Regions from separate parts of the Homo sapiens genome. Here region 2 is linked to region 1. The links come from fine-mapping of genetic effects on gene expression. A gene starts in region 1. The other region holds a variant in brackets. All regions are shown on one strand. Distances are between the middles of the regions.

Region 1 (8,645 bases):
AAATACAGTATTTCTGATGTACCTTCAACTTTAGATCTATCCACTTACAGAATTAATTATAAACATTCTTATTTTTCTACTTCACACTTGGAATCCTGTCTTTAAAATCAGCACACAGTAACCAAAACAGCATGGCACTGGTACCAAAACAGACATATAAGCCAATGGAGCAGAACAGAGACCTCAGAAATAACACCACACATCTACAACCATCTGATCTTCAACAAACAAGACAAAAACAAGCAATGGGGAAAGGATCTCCTATTCTGTAAATGGTGCTGGGAAAATTGGCTAGCCATATGCAGAAAACTGAAACTGGACCACTTCCTTACACCTTATACAAAAATTAACTTGAGATGAATTAAAGACTTAAATATAAAATCCAAAACCATAAAACCCTAGAAGAAAACCTAGGCAATACCATTCAGGACATAGGCATGGGCAAAGACTTCATGACAAAAATGCCAAAAGCAATTGCAACAAAAGCCAAAATTGACAAATAGGATCTAATTAAACTAAAGAGCTTCTGCACAGCAAAAGAAACTATCATCAGGCTGGGTGCAGTGGCTCATGCCTATAATCCCAGCACTATAGGAGGCCGAGGTGGGAGGATCACCTGAGGTCAGGAATTCCAGACCAGCCTGGCCTGCATGGTGAAACCCTGTCTCTATTTTTAAAAAATTACAAAAAGGCCAGGCATAGTGGCTCACATCTGTAATCCCAGCACTTTGGGAGGCCGAGGCGGGTGGATCACCTGAGGTCAGGAATTTGAGACCAGCCTGGACATGGTGAAACCCCATCTCTACTAAAAATACAAAAATTAGCTGGGCATGGTGGCAGGCGCCTGTAATCCCAGCTACTCAGGAGGCTGAGGCAGGAGAATCACACTTGAACCCCGGAGGCTGAGGTTGCAGTGAGCCAAGATCGCACCATTGCACTCCAGCCTGGGGGACAAGAGCGAGACTCCATCTCAAAAAAAAAAAAAATAGCTGGACGTGGTGGCACATGCCTATAATCCCAGCTACTTGGGAGGTGAACCTGGTAGGCAGAGATTGTGGTGAGCCAAGATGGCACCACGGCACTCCAGCCTGGGAGACAGAGCAAGACCCTGTCTCAAAAAAAAAAAAAAAAAGAAAGAAAAAAAGAAACTATCATCAGAGTGAACAGGCAACCCACAGAACGGGAGAAAATTTTTGCAATCTATCCATCTGACAAAGGTCTAATATCCAGAATTTACAAGGAACTTAAACATATCTACAAGAAAAAAAAAACCCCACCAAAAAGTGGGCAAAGGATATGAATAGACACTTCTCAAAAGAAGACATTTTTGAGGCCAACAAACATGAAAAAAGGCTCAACATCACTGATCATCAGAGAACTGCAAATCAAAACCACAATGATGGCCGGGTGCAGTGGCTCAAGCCTGTAATCCCAGCACTTTGGGAGGCCAAGGCGGGTGGCTCATCTGAGGTTGGGAGTTCTAGACCAGCCTGGCCAACATGTCTCTACTAAAAAGACAAAAATTGGCAGGGCGTGGTGGCAGGCGTCTGTAATCCCAGCTACTCAGGAGGCTGAGGCAGAAGAATCACTTGAACCCAGGAGGCGGAGGTTGCAGTGAGTTGGGATCGCGCCATTGCACTCCAGACTGGGCAACAAGAGTGAGACTCCGTCTCAAAAAAAAAAAAACACAATGAGATACCATTTCATGCCAGTCAGAATGGTGATTATTAAAAAGTCAGGAAAACAATAGATGCTGGCAAGTCTGTGGCGAAATGGAACGCTTTTACACTGTTGCTGGGAATGTAAATTGGTTCAACCATAGTGGAAGATAGTATGGCAATTCCTCAAGGATCTAGAACCAGAAATATCATTTGACCCAGCAATCTCATTAATGGGTATATACCCAAAGGAATAGAAATCATTCTACTCTAAAGACACATGCACACGTATGTTTACTACAGCACTATTTACAATAGCAAAGACACCAAACCAACCCAAATGCCCGTCAATGATAGACTGGATAAAGAAAATGTGATATACATACACCATGGAATACTATGCAGCCATAAAAAGGAATGAGATCATGTCCTTTGCAGGGACATGGACGAAACTGGAAGCCATCATCCTCAGCAAACTAACACAGGAACAGAAAATCAAACACCCTATGTTCTCACTCATAAGTGGGAGTTGAACATTGAGAACACATGGACACAGAGGGGAACAACACACACCAGGACCTGTTGTGGGGGGGCAATGAGGGAAGGGGACTTAGAGGACGGGTGAATAGGTGCAGCAAACCACCACGGTGCACGTATACCTATGTAACAAACCTGTACGTTCTGCACATATATCCTGTTTTTTTTGTAAGAAATAAAAAAAAATCGGCACACAAGAAAGTCTGCCTTTCTTCAAAAACAGTTTTTTCACAAATTTTTTCCATAAATAAAAAAGGTACTAAAAAAACTTGAATCCAAAAAAAGAAAAAGAAAATGCACCGTTAGATGGTAATAAATATATCACATTTTTGGTAATGTAACTCGTTTATTCTGAATCATTTCTGGAACTTGTTAATATAAATGTTTTACAAGTAAATACAATATGTAAAAATGCTACTTAATGGACTAATATGTACTTTCACTCATTCACTAAACACATATTTTTTACTGAATGCCCATATAACTTTTTTTTTCTTTTTTTTGTTTGAGACGGAGTCTCACTCTGTCGCCTAGGCTGGAGTGCAGTGGTGCGATCTCGGTTCACTGCAACCTCCGCCTCCCGGGTTCAACGATTCTCCTGCCTCAGCCTCCTGAGTACCTGGGACTACAGGCGCACGCCACCATGCCAGGCTAATTTTTTGTATTTTTTAGTAGAGACAGGATTTCACCTTATTGGTCAGTCTCAAACTCCTGACCTGGTGATCCGCCCTCCTCGGCCTCCCAAAGTGCTGGGATTACAGGCATGAGCCAGGGCACCCGGCACATAGATAACTCTTTTTTAAATGTATGAACCAAGATGACTCTACCAGATAAGGCACAGGTGCTGCAGTTAAAAGGATCTTGGTTTGAAACCTGGCTATTGTACTTACTAGCTCAGAGACCTAAAGTAGTCAAACTTCAGGTTAACATTTCACTTACCTTTTTGATGGGAAGATAATAATTACTCCTAGGGCCTTAGTGAGCTTTAAATGATTATGTAAAACACTTAGCATAGAGTCTAACATGCAGTTACGTGCTCGATAAATGACAACCATGGTAAACATATTTTATACTGAAGAAAGTATAGTTGAAGGAGACAGCCAATATGTGACCCTTTTGTCTTACTAAAGATGGAAATTTGTGAAACTCTACATTAAAACTAAAAATCCTAAGGTTACATGATTTTCTACTTTTTAAAAAAGATATACTAACTACATAAGGTTAAAGGATTTTTTAAAATAAGAAAGAAAAAAAGAAAAGCTTCTTGAAAGCTGCTGAGTTTGGGTGATGGGTACATGCTATTTTTGTGAAAATACAAATTTTTTAACACTATTAATCCAATCCCCAAAACATGCCTAACACACCTCCTCATATTCAGGAGAGATCAAGATTTTAGCCTTGAGATGTACCGAACAATGGTAACTCCCTGCTTAGTAATTCTGTACAGGTCAAGTTTTCTTGGACGAGTTTACCTTTCATTACAAAGGTGGGCACAGGGAATAGTTATCAATGCATGGAAGGGTGAAAAAATGCAAGCTTTTCAACTGCTTATTAATATTACATCAAAATAGCAGCAATGCACATTTTTTCCACGTTTTCAAAAACATAAAATACATCCACTTTATTTACTTTTGAAATTACAAGAGAGTCACAGGCACAGCCAAAAAAAGCTAAAGGAAAACACATCAGAGTTGTCAGTATCTTTAAATTTGGAAGGACGTCATTATTAATTCGCGTAAATGTTTTATGCGATGTTTCTAGGTAGCTTTTAGGTTTTATCACTGATTAACAATATAGCAAACCAGCACAGGGAGAGAGGCAATTTTTCGAAACGCTTAAGAAGCTTTAAACTACAAGAGCTATGCTACCTAAACTGAGCTCACTAACAACGTAAAATTTCAAGTCACACCTTGCCTATTTCTGAGTAAGCAAGCAAACACTAGTGAGACAAACTAGAAGCATGGAGCAAAGCAAGTCATTTCTATGCTAACCTTAATTCCTATCGTAAAGGGGTTGGCTCCATCAAAAAATATTCCTATTTCAGTATTAACACAAGTTTCAAATAAAGCACACTTGCCATTGGTAATTCTAGAGCGACAAGGCGCATAATTAATAAATCCAAACGGAGCATCTTTCTATAGAATACAAAGCCATCTGCAGTTTCAGCCTCGGTTTACCCACTCACTATGCATATGCAGACGTCTTTAAAAATAAATAAATAAATACACAAATAAACTTTATCTGGCCTGAGAGATTACATCTCTCGGTGCTTCCTGTATATTCTGGAAGTCAATAACGCTGAAGGTAAATTTAACATTTCCAACTCCGGAGGAACGCGAGCGGTAGACGCCAAGCATCCGCCCACTGTCCTCTCGTGACTCGGGCTACTTTGACGCACCGGGATGCGGCTCACCTGACATTCGGCACCAACCCTTGCCAGGAAGGAAAACCAACTCCGCGAAAATAAAATGGGTCCCCGAGGAGGCGTGCGGGTGCCCCCAGAGCTCTCTTCTGCTCACACCCCGAAAGCGAGGGGGCCACGCCACCCCCGACCCTCGCCGGCGTCCGCCACCTGCCAGACGAGGCCGCGGCCAGGGACCCGGGCTCGGCCGCAAGGAAGGGGCAGCCCAGCCCAGGCCCCCTCGGCGTCTGTCCCGGCCCGGCAGCAGAGGAAGGAACCCGGGGCCGGAGGTTTCCGCCCCGCACGGCCGAGCCCGCCAGGGGCCTAGCTCGGGGGCCGCCCGTACTCCCGAGGACCCGTCCCCATCGTGCGGAGCGCACAGCCGCCTCAGCCCGACCCGCAGAGCCTCCGGGCAGCGGGCGCGGCGCCCGCACCTGCCCCGCGCCTTGCTGCAGCCCCGCTAGCGGCTTCACCCACCTGGCGCCCTCGCCGCGCCTCCCGCTCGTCACAGCGCGACTCCGCGTCCCTCAGCACCGGCAGCCTGGGCGCGGGCAGGCGCGGGGAGACCCTGCTCTGCCGCCGTCGCCGCCACTGCAGCTGGCTTGGTCGTCAGGCCGCCGCCCGCGAACCTGTTGCGTAGCCTGTCACAGCCGCTCAGGGCTCCGCCGGCGCCGCCTCAGCCCCACAACAACATGGCGGCCGCGGCCTCCGCAGGAAGCCGGGGGGCGGGGAGGTAGGCGCCGGGCCGGGCAGCTGACGGCCCGCCCGCTGCCGGGCACCGACTCCCCACCCTCCGGAGCCCGAAACTGCCCGGGCGTGGCTCCTCGCCCCAGGAGTTCCGGGGCATTGAACCCTGAAGGTCTGCTCCGAGTCGGTCGGGTCCGAAGCGCTCCTCTCTGCCCTCGGGGAGGCCCCGAAGCCCCAGACCTGGCAGCCCTTCCTGGAGTTGCACAGACCCACCTGGCTCCTCCTCCCCGAGGTAACATGCTGAGCTTGGGTGGTGCTTTTCCTGCCACGGCAGACGCCGGGGTTTTGGAAAGTCCCAAGCAGTGCCTGCCACATCCCTGTTGCACCCACCACGGGGTTCTCCCTGGAACCTTCTCACTCGCCGAAGTTTTCTCCACTGATCTGGGGGAACGAATTCTCTGGGAATTGGGGGGTGGAAGGTGGGAAGGAGGTTGATCCCACCCTTGCCCATGGGTCTGTTACAGGCCTCTTGAACCCTTCTCAGGGACCTGGAGGACTTAACCATACCCTCGGTCATCCATTCACCATTCCTCGCCCTCCTCCATAACACACGCGGAGCGCCCACGAGGAGCACCCTCTACGCTAGTCACACTCCGCCGAGCAGTAGGAAGACTCTGTCCCCATAGAGCATAGCACGACGAAGCTAAACTTTCCTCCCCACCCCTCGCCAAGGGACAGGCGAAGCTCCTACTCAGAATTTGTCTCTTTTCTCCCCTCCCGGTTCCTGGTCTCCTCACAAAAGACCAGACTTCAACTCAAGCCGCCACCGTATCCCAAAACCCCAAAGGTTTGCCCTTGACAAGAAGCTTCTTCAAGGGGAAAGGCTTTCTTTTGATTGGGGTGAGGGAGGAGTTAGTGTTTCCTAATGAACGTAACCAAATGTCGGCCTGGCACAGTGGCTCACGCTTGTAACCCCGGCACTTTGGGAGGCCGAGGCAGGTGGATCATCTGAGGTCAGGAGTTGGAGACCAGCCTGGCCAACATGGTGAAACCCCGCCTCTTCTAACAATACAAAAATTAGCTGGGCGTGGTGGCGGGCGCCTGTAGTCCCAGCTACTCGGAAGGCTGAGGCAGGAGAATCGCTTGAACCTGGGAGGCGGAGGTTGCAGTGAGCAGAGATTGCACCACTGTACTCCAGCCTGGGCGACAAGAGCGAAACTCTGTCTCAAAAAAAAAAAAGTAACCAAATGTAAGACTCAAGATTTTTGGATATAAGACCCAAGATTTCTTTTTTTTTTTTTTTTTTTTTTTTTTTTTTTCCTGAGACAGACTCTCACTCCGTTGCCCAGGCTGGAGTGCAGTGGCGCAACTGTGAGATCTGTGCTCACTGCAACCTCCGCCTCCCAGGTTCAAGCAATTCTCCTGCCTCAGCCTTCCAAGTACCTGGGATTACAGGCACTTGCCACCACGCCCGGCTAATTTTTGTATTTTTAGTAGACACTGGTTTCACCATGTTGGCCAGGCTGGTCTCAAACTCCTGACCTCAGGTGATCCACCCGCCTCATCCTCCCAAAGTGCTGGGATTGGCGTGAGCCACCACGCCCGGCCAAGACCCAAGATTTATTTTGGCTTTTAGAAGCAGGGTGAGGGCTGGTCTGGGGTCCAAAACTCATATCCCTTGATTTGATCTGTGTAGATCAAATAACCCCTGGCATCCTTTCATTCCTTACCTGTTGAGGCAGGTGAAGGTGAGATGGCTCCAAACCCAGGCCTATCTGAACTGGCCAGCCAGCTTAGGAGGAATTTACCAAACATCGATGATGATAAACAGGCTTTTCCCGCTCTCACACTCAGTGTTTTTCCTAACTCTTCGATTAGAACCTGACCAAGACCTGACAGACAGGTCCTGAGCTTCAGTGACACAGAGAAGCCTGACTCTTTTATCAGTCTAGGAGGCCCCTCACTTGCTGGGGACCAGCCAATCTGTCCTTATCTGCAAACAAACCACCCAGGCCAAGGATAGCAATCTTGAGCACGTGGCCTCATTCCCATTGCACCCTTCACCAGTTAACTGATATGCTCTTTTGGAGCCCATATTTGAGAGTCAAAGCCCCAGAATCCTTCACAACATAGTGCTCCAGAGAGTTGGTCTGAGAGGTAAAACCTATTTTTTATTCCTGTTAGGCACATAGCTAGTCTTCATTTTTCTCCCATCCTTTGACCAATGTCATTTGTGTTTTCGGGTTCTAGACCTGGTGCAATTTACCCTGAGTCTCCTTTCCTTCTAAAGGAGGTGCCAAATCCTTGGCAGGACAAAAATGGAATTTGTAGAAAGAGATGCTTATAAAGGAATAAAAAAAAATTTAAAGCCCCCCTAAAATAAACCAAAAAACTAACAACCTCTGCTGGAAATCAGGGTCCTGAATGCATGCCTACAGTATCCCAAGTACTAAAACAACTGTATCCCAGAGTTCCCTTCAGAACTTTGAGGCCAGTTTGTCCATCCTGTCCTACTCTATCACAGCCCAAAATGCAAGCACCTCCAGTTATCTATCTTCTCTCTCACACATACCTCCCACCCTGTGTGATTCAGGGATAAATTTGGGCAATATTAAGCATTTGGTGGTTGGATATAAGGAATGAGAAGGAGTAAAGGGTTCTTGGGTTTTTGGGTAATGGTAGTTCTATTCAACAAGATAAAGAATGGAATACAGGAGGGAAGCACAGACCTTGGAAGTGGCTGAAGAAACATTTTCCTTGCTCCTCGACTGCATCCAGATCCTAGTTTTCCACTCACATGCAAAAGCCCCTTCTCCTATGAGGCTTATAACACTAGCTACACCCATCCTCTATCCTCATCCTTATCATTTACCATCTTCCAGGGCACTCAATATATTCCTCAAGAATTTCTGCACATGGAGCAGCCAGTACTCTCCGCCCAGGACCTTCATCATCCTTAGTGTCTTTCAGTGTTCATGATTCATTTAGATGATGCAGCCGCCATCCCAGTTCCTTGACTTCCTCTTCTCATAGGGCAGCCTTGGAAGTGTGTCTATACATTTCCTCCTTAGTATTCTCCAAATCCCAGCATCTTTTCTTTACTTCTGGCACCAGCTGGAAATCAAATACCTGGAGGAGCTAAGTCCTACCATGTTACATTTCTCTTCCTCTAGTTCTGCCACAGTCTAGGCAAGATTCTTAGACTTGTTCCTGGTGACCTAGCTTTTACCCTGGGAGCGTTTAGTCTCTATCTGTTTTCTTTTCCATGTATTATTGATCCTTCTCCTCAACCATATGTATCTTATGTTCTATCAATCTCCCCTTAAGTTAGTTTTCAAAGATTCCATCCTGTACCCCATTTC
Region 2 (8,645 bases), 150 kb before region 1:
GTGAGAAGGGGGAGGAGGCAGGGGCAGAAGGATGGGGAGAGGGCAGACTTAGGGTCTAGGCCCCCTGGCTGCAAAGGGAGAGGGTGGATGGCAGGCCCTAGAGGAGGGTGAGGAGGAGCAGTGGCTGCTCAGGAGCTGAAGGGAGACAGACCACAGGTGTGGCATGTAATGGAGCACCACAGCCCAAGCAGAGGTGAGGTGAGTCATGGAGAGAAAGGAGTGGAGAAGGTGCAGTGGAGTGGGGGGGATAGAGGTGGTGCAGAGAGGGAGGTCCCGGAGCTGGCACTGCCAGCCCGTGTCTGTGTGGGCAGGAGCCCCAGGGAGGTTTGCAGTAGTAGCTTCAAGAGGGGAGGGCTCTCTGGTCTGATCCCGCAGCAGGTCTGGTCTTTCAGACCCGTCCCTATATCATCAGCCTGACTGCAGGAGCAGTGGCCGGCATTCCTAGGGCCCCTGGGGGCTGCGTCCCACCCTCCGGGCACCCTGATACCTTGGTAAGCTTTCTCACGCTTCTTCTTCTCGGTGTCGATGTACTGCTCAGACGCCGCCTTGATCTTCTGCACCCAGGCGGTCCTACGGGAGAAGCAGGGGCAGCCGTTGGCCGCATCCCACCCTCACAGGTCAGCGTGGAGCCCCAGAGCTCTGCACATGTTCTTCAGTCTTTTGCTAACCTCAACTTTCACAAGTTTCCTATCAAAGACCTGATATTAGTCAACTGAAAGATGCTTATGCTAATGGAGTATGAGAGCTGGTAGTGACCCTTCTTGGCTGACCACAAAATGCCAGGCACTCGCAAGGCGCTGGGACCTGGAGACAGATGATGCATTGGCCCCACGGATGATACCTGTCACGAGGGGTTCTAGCGCACACAGAGGAGCAGCAGCACCCCCCGGGTTGGCGCCGCGGAGGCACTGTTGGAGCTGCAGCCTGAAGGAAGCTGGGAACAGCGGGGATGGCACCCACACAAGGGCGCCTGAGGGGCGAAAGTCTGCAGGTGGAGGGACGAGGGCTGAGGCCTGTGGCCCAAGGAGGCCTCGGAAACCAGCAAAGCACAGTGGGCTGTCGCCTGCGGGCAGCCCCTGCAGGGACTGTAGCAGGGCCTCAGGTGCTGATCTGCCATTTGGGAAGGCTGCTGAGTGGTGTGGGGAGAGACTAGAAGCCGGGAAGCATGTTAGGAGGCAGCTGCAGTGACCAAGGCCTACCATGGGACTGGAGCAGAGGGGATGTGTTAAGAGAGGTTCAGGATACAGAATTAGTGGGGCTTAAGCACGGCTGGAGATGGGTTTATGGCAGAGGGAGACGTCCAGGCCTTCTCCCAGAGTTCAAGGCAGGCCACACATGGTCAGGACTGACCTCTCATTAATGTTGTCTGTTCGGAGGGTGTAGACCCGATCAATGTGGGAAATGTGGAAGACAGGCTCATCGCTGGAAGGGTCTGTGGGCAGTTTCACCAAGACTTCATTCAGGAAAATGGGCTGAAAGAATTAGGGCCAAAACACAGGCTGTGAGATGGGCTAGAACACTCCACCCGCCTATGTCCAGAGAGAGTTCTGTTTGTTCTGAAGAGCCTTGTTGAGAAGGAGAAAGGGGTCTAGCGTCTAAGGTCTTCTACACAGAACAAATGAAACCTCCATTTGTAAGAACAATGAAGCCTCCATTTCTGGAAAAGTCATTATCGAGGTGGGTCAGGTGTTGGGACTGGGTGGGGACAGGAGCTCCAAGCGCCCATGACGGCTGGTGCAAAAGGCTCTCTGCTAGCAACGCTGGTGCTGTGCTGGGGCTCGGCTTACAGAGACCCAATGCTGAATGCACACAGTGGTGAGCCCAGGTGTCACGCTGGCCAGGAGGAAGCCAGAATCTCAGCTGGAATCTGGCTGATGGCCTGTGGCAGGTGGGGAGTGCCCAGCTGCATGGGGCCCTTCCCGTGGGAAGCAGCAAAGGAAGCACGAGCGATCTGGAACCAGGTGAGGAGGGTCCCGTAAGGCCAGCTCAGGGTCTGCCAGGAAGGCCTTAAGATAGAGGCAACACCTCATTAGGCCCCTGATGCTACCCCCAGACGCGTGATACTCACCGTTTTATACATTTTGAATTGAGCATTGGACTTCGAGCTGAAAAGTTTCTCAGAGCCAGAGGAAACAGCAAACTGCTTGACCATGTAGGTAAGAAGCAGGAAGTCATTGAAGAGGAATCCGTGCAGTTCCTTGTTGCTCTTGGTCTTGTATAATTTCCCACTGTGTAAGAGCTTCCGGGGCCCCAGGCAGTTGGTGAGAGAGTTGAAAATAAGTTGCTTAAAGAGAAAGAAAATTTCACTTTTTAAATCCCGGCACAAACCATCCAGTGCCCCTGAGAGGCCAGTGCCCTGGGCCTGAGGATACTGTGGTGGAGTTTTCTAGGTGGGAATGTGGCTAGAATCATTCACTTTGCATGAAAGATCCTTAAATACATTACTCTTCAGAGTCCAAACTGGCCCAGTGAAAATCATTACTTCTAGCCACAGAACACTGATTCTACCAGCTGAATTCAAAGAACTCAAAACAAAAAATCCCAGTGTTCTCTCCTTAGGAGAAAGGAAGATGACAATCCAAGAAGGAATGCCCTTCATGCCTGCAATCCCAGCACTGTTGGGAGACAGAGGCGGGAGGATCACTTGACGCCAGGAGTTCAAGACCAGCCTGGCCAACATGGTGAAACCCCAGCTCTACTAAAAATACGAAAATTAGCTGGGCATCGTAGCAGATGCCTGTAGTCCCAGCTACTTGGGAGATGGAGGCCAGAGAATCGCTCCAACCCGGGAGGCAGAGCTTGCAGTGAGCCGAGATGATCTCGCCACTGCACTCCAGCCTGGGCAACAGAGTGAGACTCCGTCTCAAAAAAAAAAAAAAAAAAAAGAAAAAAAAATGCCTTTGCAGGGGCAGGGTGGTGAGTCCACGCAGGCTGCCTAAGGTGCAGACTGTCCACGTGAGGGAAGGCTCGGAGCTGGTTCCCCACCCAGAGCCTCCCTGGAGGCGCACGGCTTAACCACACAGGCCTGACCTCCGCGAGGCCTTCACACTGCACGTGCGCCTGGATCCACTCCAGTCGGTCCGAGTTTTCCTTCTCCCGAACTCCCTCATTCACTTGAGAGCACAGCTCCTCTGCCCGCTCGAGGGCCAGCTTTAGGGAGGAATGGTCTGCATGGCTCTCCGGGGTGTTCTCCAGAATCTGGAAAAGAGTGGGCAGTGTCACATGGGGGAGCTGCGTCTCTCACCTGCCCACCTGGACCTTCGCAGGACCGCTCCTCCAACCCCATGTTATGGACTGCTTCCATGCCCTGGAAACGCGGCGGTGAACAAGACGACACTTTCCGCCCTTGAGAAACTCGTACTCCCACAAGTTCTTGGGGACACAGGGACAGGTAACGCTGCTGTGACAAGGTGACAGTGCTAAACGGATCAAGTGCTCTGAACTGTGTGGGTCTCTGGTTGCTCTCCGACTGGCTCCCGGTAATAGGCGGGAGCCTCCCGACTCCTTCCGAAATTTAAGCCATGTAAGGGTGCGCCCTCCTGTATAAACTGGCTGCAGCTGTGGTAAGTGTGAACTTGCTGAATAGCAATGGTTCATAACAATTTTGGGGTCACTGATCCTTTTGAAAAAAATCTGATGAAAGCAATGACTCCCATGCCACAGGAAAAATACAATAAAATCACATTGTCAGCATGTGGAAGAAATGCATTCTGTTCATTCTGAAGCGATTTCAAACGACGCATGCTGCAACTGTGAACGCGCAGAGGCCAGAATACAAACGTGTGTGGTCCCTCCAGAAATTAGG[A/G]GCCATCACCAGATGCCCCGTCTGGACTCTCTCACTCTAGTCAGATGAGTGCACAGTCCTTCATTTACAATTCTAAAATGCAGAACAGCCTGAGAGCCTAAAGTTTTTATTCAGTACCCATTTGGTGGCAAAATCTGACCTAAACAGAAGAGATATATTTACTTACTCTTACAGTGATTGTTCTTATGTTCCACTGTAGGAATATTAGTGTGTCTGGTTGTAAGTGCTACCCTAAGGCTCAGTTGAGGAGTCATATATTATATGGTATTTGAGCTACATTCCGAATTCTGAAACACATCTGGCCCCAAGTATTTCAATGAAGGGGCTGTGAACCTGCATTATGGTTCAGTTTAGTGCAGGCGTCTATCACATGAGGTCTATGTTGAGGTCACACAGCTAACAGACCAAAAGTCAAGGAATCATCAATAGAAGTAACAAGCTTATCATATTCCTGCTGCTTTTCTTTGTAAGTTACTGTAATCAATGGTTAATCGTGGGATAATCTTTTGTAAAGTCTGCCTTTTCCTTAGAAGGCTTATGGGCTCAAGAGGGCCCTATTGCTTATCAAAAAGAAAGCTGGAAGGAATTTTAGAAGGAATGTTGAAGCCGAATACAGCGAGGGACACAAATGAACTCTATTTATGATGTGCCAAGTGGAGCCTCCTGGGACATCTAGGAAAGGTGTTCAGGGTGGATGGAGGCAGATCTCAGAGGAAAGACTGGAGTCTAAGGTTACTCTGGTCTTTCTCTGGGTTCAAGATGGGCTCCACAACTGGAGACCTAGAGGGGCCTTTCCCTGCCTGGACAAGTATACTTATGACTTTGAGATGCTGGGGAGTTTCTTGAAAGGTGGGTGACAGGTTACCCAAGTGATACTGGATTCCTCTCTGATTTGCCCACTTCAAGGATTCAGCGTGTTTCTGTGCACACACACACACAGGCATCTGGTCCCCGGGACAGTGGGATCACTTGTGCGGTGTCACACTGTGTGCAGGGTGAGGTGGCATGCTCAGGGCTCCCTGAGGATCTGGCCTCTGTGGACCTCAGCGCATCCTGCTCCTAACTCAGACCCCACTGCCCGGCCTGCACACTCACACTTCTGATGAGCAGTGGGTAGCGGGTGATCCTCTGCATGGGTTTCAGCAGGAAGCTGGAGAGGGGCATTCCTTTACACCGCGGGTCAGATGCCAGCTTCTGCAAAACAACAGTGAGGCTCGTGAGGAAATCACAGCTCCGATCACAGGAAGCACTGGTCTTTGATCGCCTTTTAGATTTCACATTTCTTTTATTTATTTATGTTTCTCCCTGTCTTACTGTTTTAGAATTTTTTTTAGGTGAGTGTTCTATTTTTTATTTTTATTTTAAAATTTGTGTATATTCACAACATACAAGTGTAATTTTGCTACACTGATATGTCGCACTGTAGTAAAGTGAGGGGGCTTCGACTTTCTTTTAAATAACTCAGGATCTAAAATGATACCTATTAGGTTCACAGTAGGAATATCTCAGCTCATGTGCCAAGCCCAGCGGATGCTCCTCAGCTCTTTCCCATGACCTGTGCTGGGACTGTCCCCTGCCCTCTCTTCTCGGAGCTGATTCACACTTGACCCTCAAGACTCAGGCCCTGCTTCCCCTTGTCCAGGCTCTCCCCTGGGACACCTTCCCTCCTTTCCATGACCCTCCCTGGCCACCTTTAGCATACACCACATGTGCACCAGGTGATACAGGGAGAGGCATCGTGTTGCAGTGTCTCTATTCCACACCCGATTTGTGAACGCCAGGCCCAGGGCCCACATCCTACTTGCCTCTACCCCTAGCTCTGGTACACTGCCTGAAGACAGCAGCTGCTGCTCTAGGATGGCAGCTTTTAATGACTGAAAAGTACACTCACTGTAATCCACCTCATCATTTCCCCACTACTGGATATTTAAATTGCCCCCCTTTTGTTTTGGCCGTATCTATATAGGTTGCTGTCACAAGCATCTTCGTGCTTCTTATTTCCATATTTTCTGAGTCTTTTTAAAAAGTAACATTTTAGAACACAGCTTATTGCTAGATTTTGCTTTTTAAGGTAACCTATAGCAGGCCTTTCATGAGGCAGTATTTTTATTTATTTTGACTACTGTTACAATTGTGATGACTTTGAAATCCTATTTACATCATTATTTTAAAACATGCACATATACTAACAATTCTCAGTTTATCTCATTATTCTGATGAATGTTTAATTCTATGGTCTTGGTTTCCATGTTTCTTCCAGTTCATTTCGAGGCAACTCCCTGCCTCCTACCCTTATCACAAATCGAAGGGCTCTGTCCTCACTGCCTTATATTGAATCATTTTTGCATCCCTGAGATCATCGTAAGGAAAAATACGATAATCATTTATTGAATGCTAATAGTAATGTGTTGGTCTCTGAGTTAAAGTCCTTTAAAAGTACTGTGTGATAATCTCCTTTTATAGATGAGGGGACTGAAGGCACCCACATGTTAAATAACTTGCCTCTGGTCACACAATTAGACAGTGACGGGGCCGAGATTCTGAAGCCTGTCTTGTTCTAAGCATAGTATGCTATAGCCTCCTGAGATAATCCTATTTGGTTATGATAGGCTCTTCTTTTCATGTAATGCTTAATTTTATGAATTGTTACTTTAATTAAGAGTTTAACAGCTGTATTTGTAAATGATAGTGGGTTTTAACTTAAACAGGCCTTGGAATCATGGCTACTTTTGCTTTATAGAATGAATTAGGTGACCTTTTTACTTTTTCCTATGATCTGTAACAGTTTGTATAATATAGAATAATCTGTTCCTTTAGAGTTGGAGAGAATTCCCTGTTAAATCCATCAAGTGAACCCAGCTCCTTTTTGGGGTAAGTTTCTCAATTTTCTCCTTGGTGTATAGTATCGTAATAGTAAGATTTTCTATTTTTAAAAGATTTTCTATTCTTATTGAGCCAGTTTTCAAGTTTTAATAGAAAATTACAAATTTTGTTCATGTTTTCACATTTGTTAGCATGTCTTTTGGAATTACATGCACTTTAATTTAAGAGATCTCCTTACATCCATTCTGTTACTTGTGTTTTTTCCTCTTTCTCTATTAGATTCATCAGTTACATTTTATTACCTCTCTTCAATATAACAGTTCTTGGATATATTGATATAATTTGTGCTTTTTACCTTTATTACTTCCTCCATTTTCCTTTTCTAATTTCTATTCTCTGCCTAAACATCTTTATATTTTATTCTTACTTTCTACTCTTTTCTGATAATGAAAATATTTAAATTATATACTCTCCTTAAGTACTGATATGGCTGTTTAATATATCCCAATATGCAGTATTTCATGAACAAAAAAACCCAACAGGAAATATGAAAAAAAGCAAGAAAACAGATTTTACTTTCAATTTCCTCACCATTTTAACAGGTATAATAATAGTTTCTACTACTGAACAACATCAATGCAAATAACTTCTCAAAATATGACTTTCTATTATAATAACCTGTACGAAGGATGTTGTTGACTCATTACATTATACACAGTGTTCTCTCTCTGAGTACAGCTGTAGCTTTACTTCTCATGTTTAACTTGTGACGTGGCATCACGGAACTGATCCTTTCTTCTTCTGCTCATCAGTTTCTGGAAGCTTTGATGACATCTGTGCACACTTCTGGTATATTTACAGGATCACAGATATGCATTTTATATATTATCCTAATTCCTGGTATCGTCTTTGTTTCCTACTCTCATTTCCTTTTGTCCAAGTTTATTCATCTAGTTATTTTAAATTTTATCTTGTTGCATTTTATATATTTGAGTAAGCTATTTTAGGGCCGGGCACGGTGGCTTACACCTGTAATCCAAGCACTTTGGGAGGCCAAGGTGGGCCGATCACCTGAGGTCAGGAGTTCGAAATCAACCTGGCCAACATGGTGAAACCCCGTCTCTACTAAAAATACAAAAATTAGCCAGGCGTGGTGGCACATGCCTGTAATCCCAGCTACTTTGGAGGCTGAGGTAGGAGAATCTCTTGAACTTGGGAGGCAGAGGTTGCAGTGAGCCAAGATCATACCACTGCATTCCAGCCTGGGCAACAGAGCAAGATTCTGTTTAAAAAAAAAAAAAAAAAAAAGAGTAAGCTATTTTATACTCTTTCTGGAATAAGGCAGGTATTAAATGAAGGCAATTTACAAAATTAAGAAAGTGACATTCTGGTTGTTTCTTGGGAGTATAAAGTAGCTGATAAGTAAGTATGCTTAAAAAAAAACACTCTGCTATCAGATGGGGAAAAAATGATGGTCCCAGTGCCAGGAAAAAATCAGGTCTACATAAAGGCAACACAAAACAATCGGAAAATTCTCTGCCGTTTTGGTGTTTCCTTTGGAAACTGATGGGGATGCCCTTCTCCATTGCTGGGATTCCCTGTTGGGCTACTGTGTGCTGTTGCCTCCAGCCTCAGAAGGAGCCTGACCCGCAAGGCCCAGAATGGAATTACCTTTAAAAATTCTTTGAAATCTGTGTCTTCATCTGTCTTCTGCTGTAACAGAGCTGCTCCATTAAGCTGGCAGCTGCAGAACCTGATGTAAGCCTGCATGTGGGACAGCTCAGCGGCCAGGATGTCCCCAATCATCTGCACCGGCATCTTCTCGCCCCCGGTCTTCTTCCGCACCCGCAAAGCCCTGCCAAGAACACACTCTCATTTTGTGTTTCTAAGTGAATGACTTAGGTAATTAAAGGATGAATCCCATGGCAGACCAATGGTAATGATAACCAGTGAGCTACCTAAGAACCTCTGGCACTGGGAAGGAGAACTCAAGAGGAAGAGGAGATAGCTTGGGCCA

Direction of the effects. Positions count from the first base shown, and alleles are read on the strand shown. Sizes are in standard deviations (SD) of each study's normalised expression.
For the expression in thyroid of the gene that starts at base 5,306 in region 1, allele A in region 2 goes with a higher level than allele G (small effect, 0.26 SD a copy in GTEx).

Evidence for each region. PIP is the estimated chance that this variant, and not a neighbour inherited with it, causes the effect.
Region 2: its variant is fine-mapped to the expression of ITSN2 in thyroid (GTEx, PIP 0.93).

Annotation. Positions count from the first base shown.
Region 1 is chr2:24,355,231-24,363,875 of GRCh38, forward strand. ITSN2 (intersectin 2) reads right to left here and starts at 5,306. Exons shown (of 40, transcript NM_006277.3): 1 at 5,074-5,306. RefSeq lists silencers at 4,720-5,119, 5,130-5,179, 5,190-5,489 and an enhancer at 5,590-5,739.
Region 2 is chr2:24,207,750-24,216,394 of GRCh38, forward strand. It overlaps ITSN2 (intersectin 2), which reads right to left. Exons shown (of 40, transcript NM_006277.3): 32 at 8,300-8,483; 33 at 4,901-4,999; 34 at 3,031-3,198; 35 at 2,069-2,284; 36 at 1,351-1,472; 37 at 488-570. Among named protein-coding and RNA genes, the nearest start is that of FAM228A, 37 kb to the left of the region's middle. RefSeq lists an enhancer at 7,349-7,418. The variant A/G (reference allele first, on the strand shown) is at 3,806.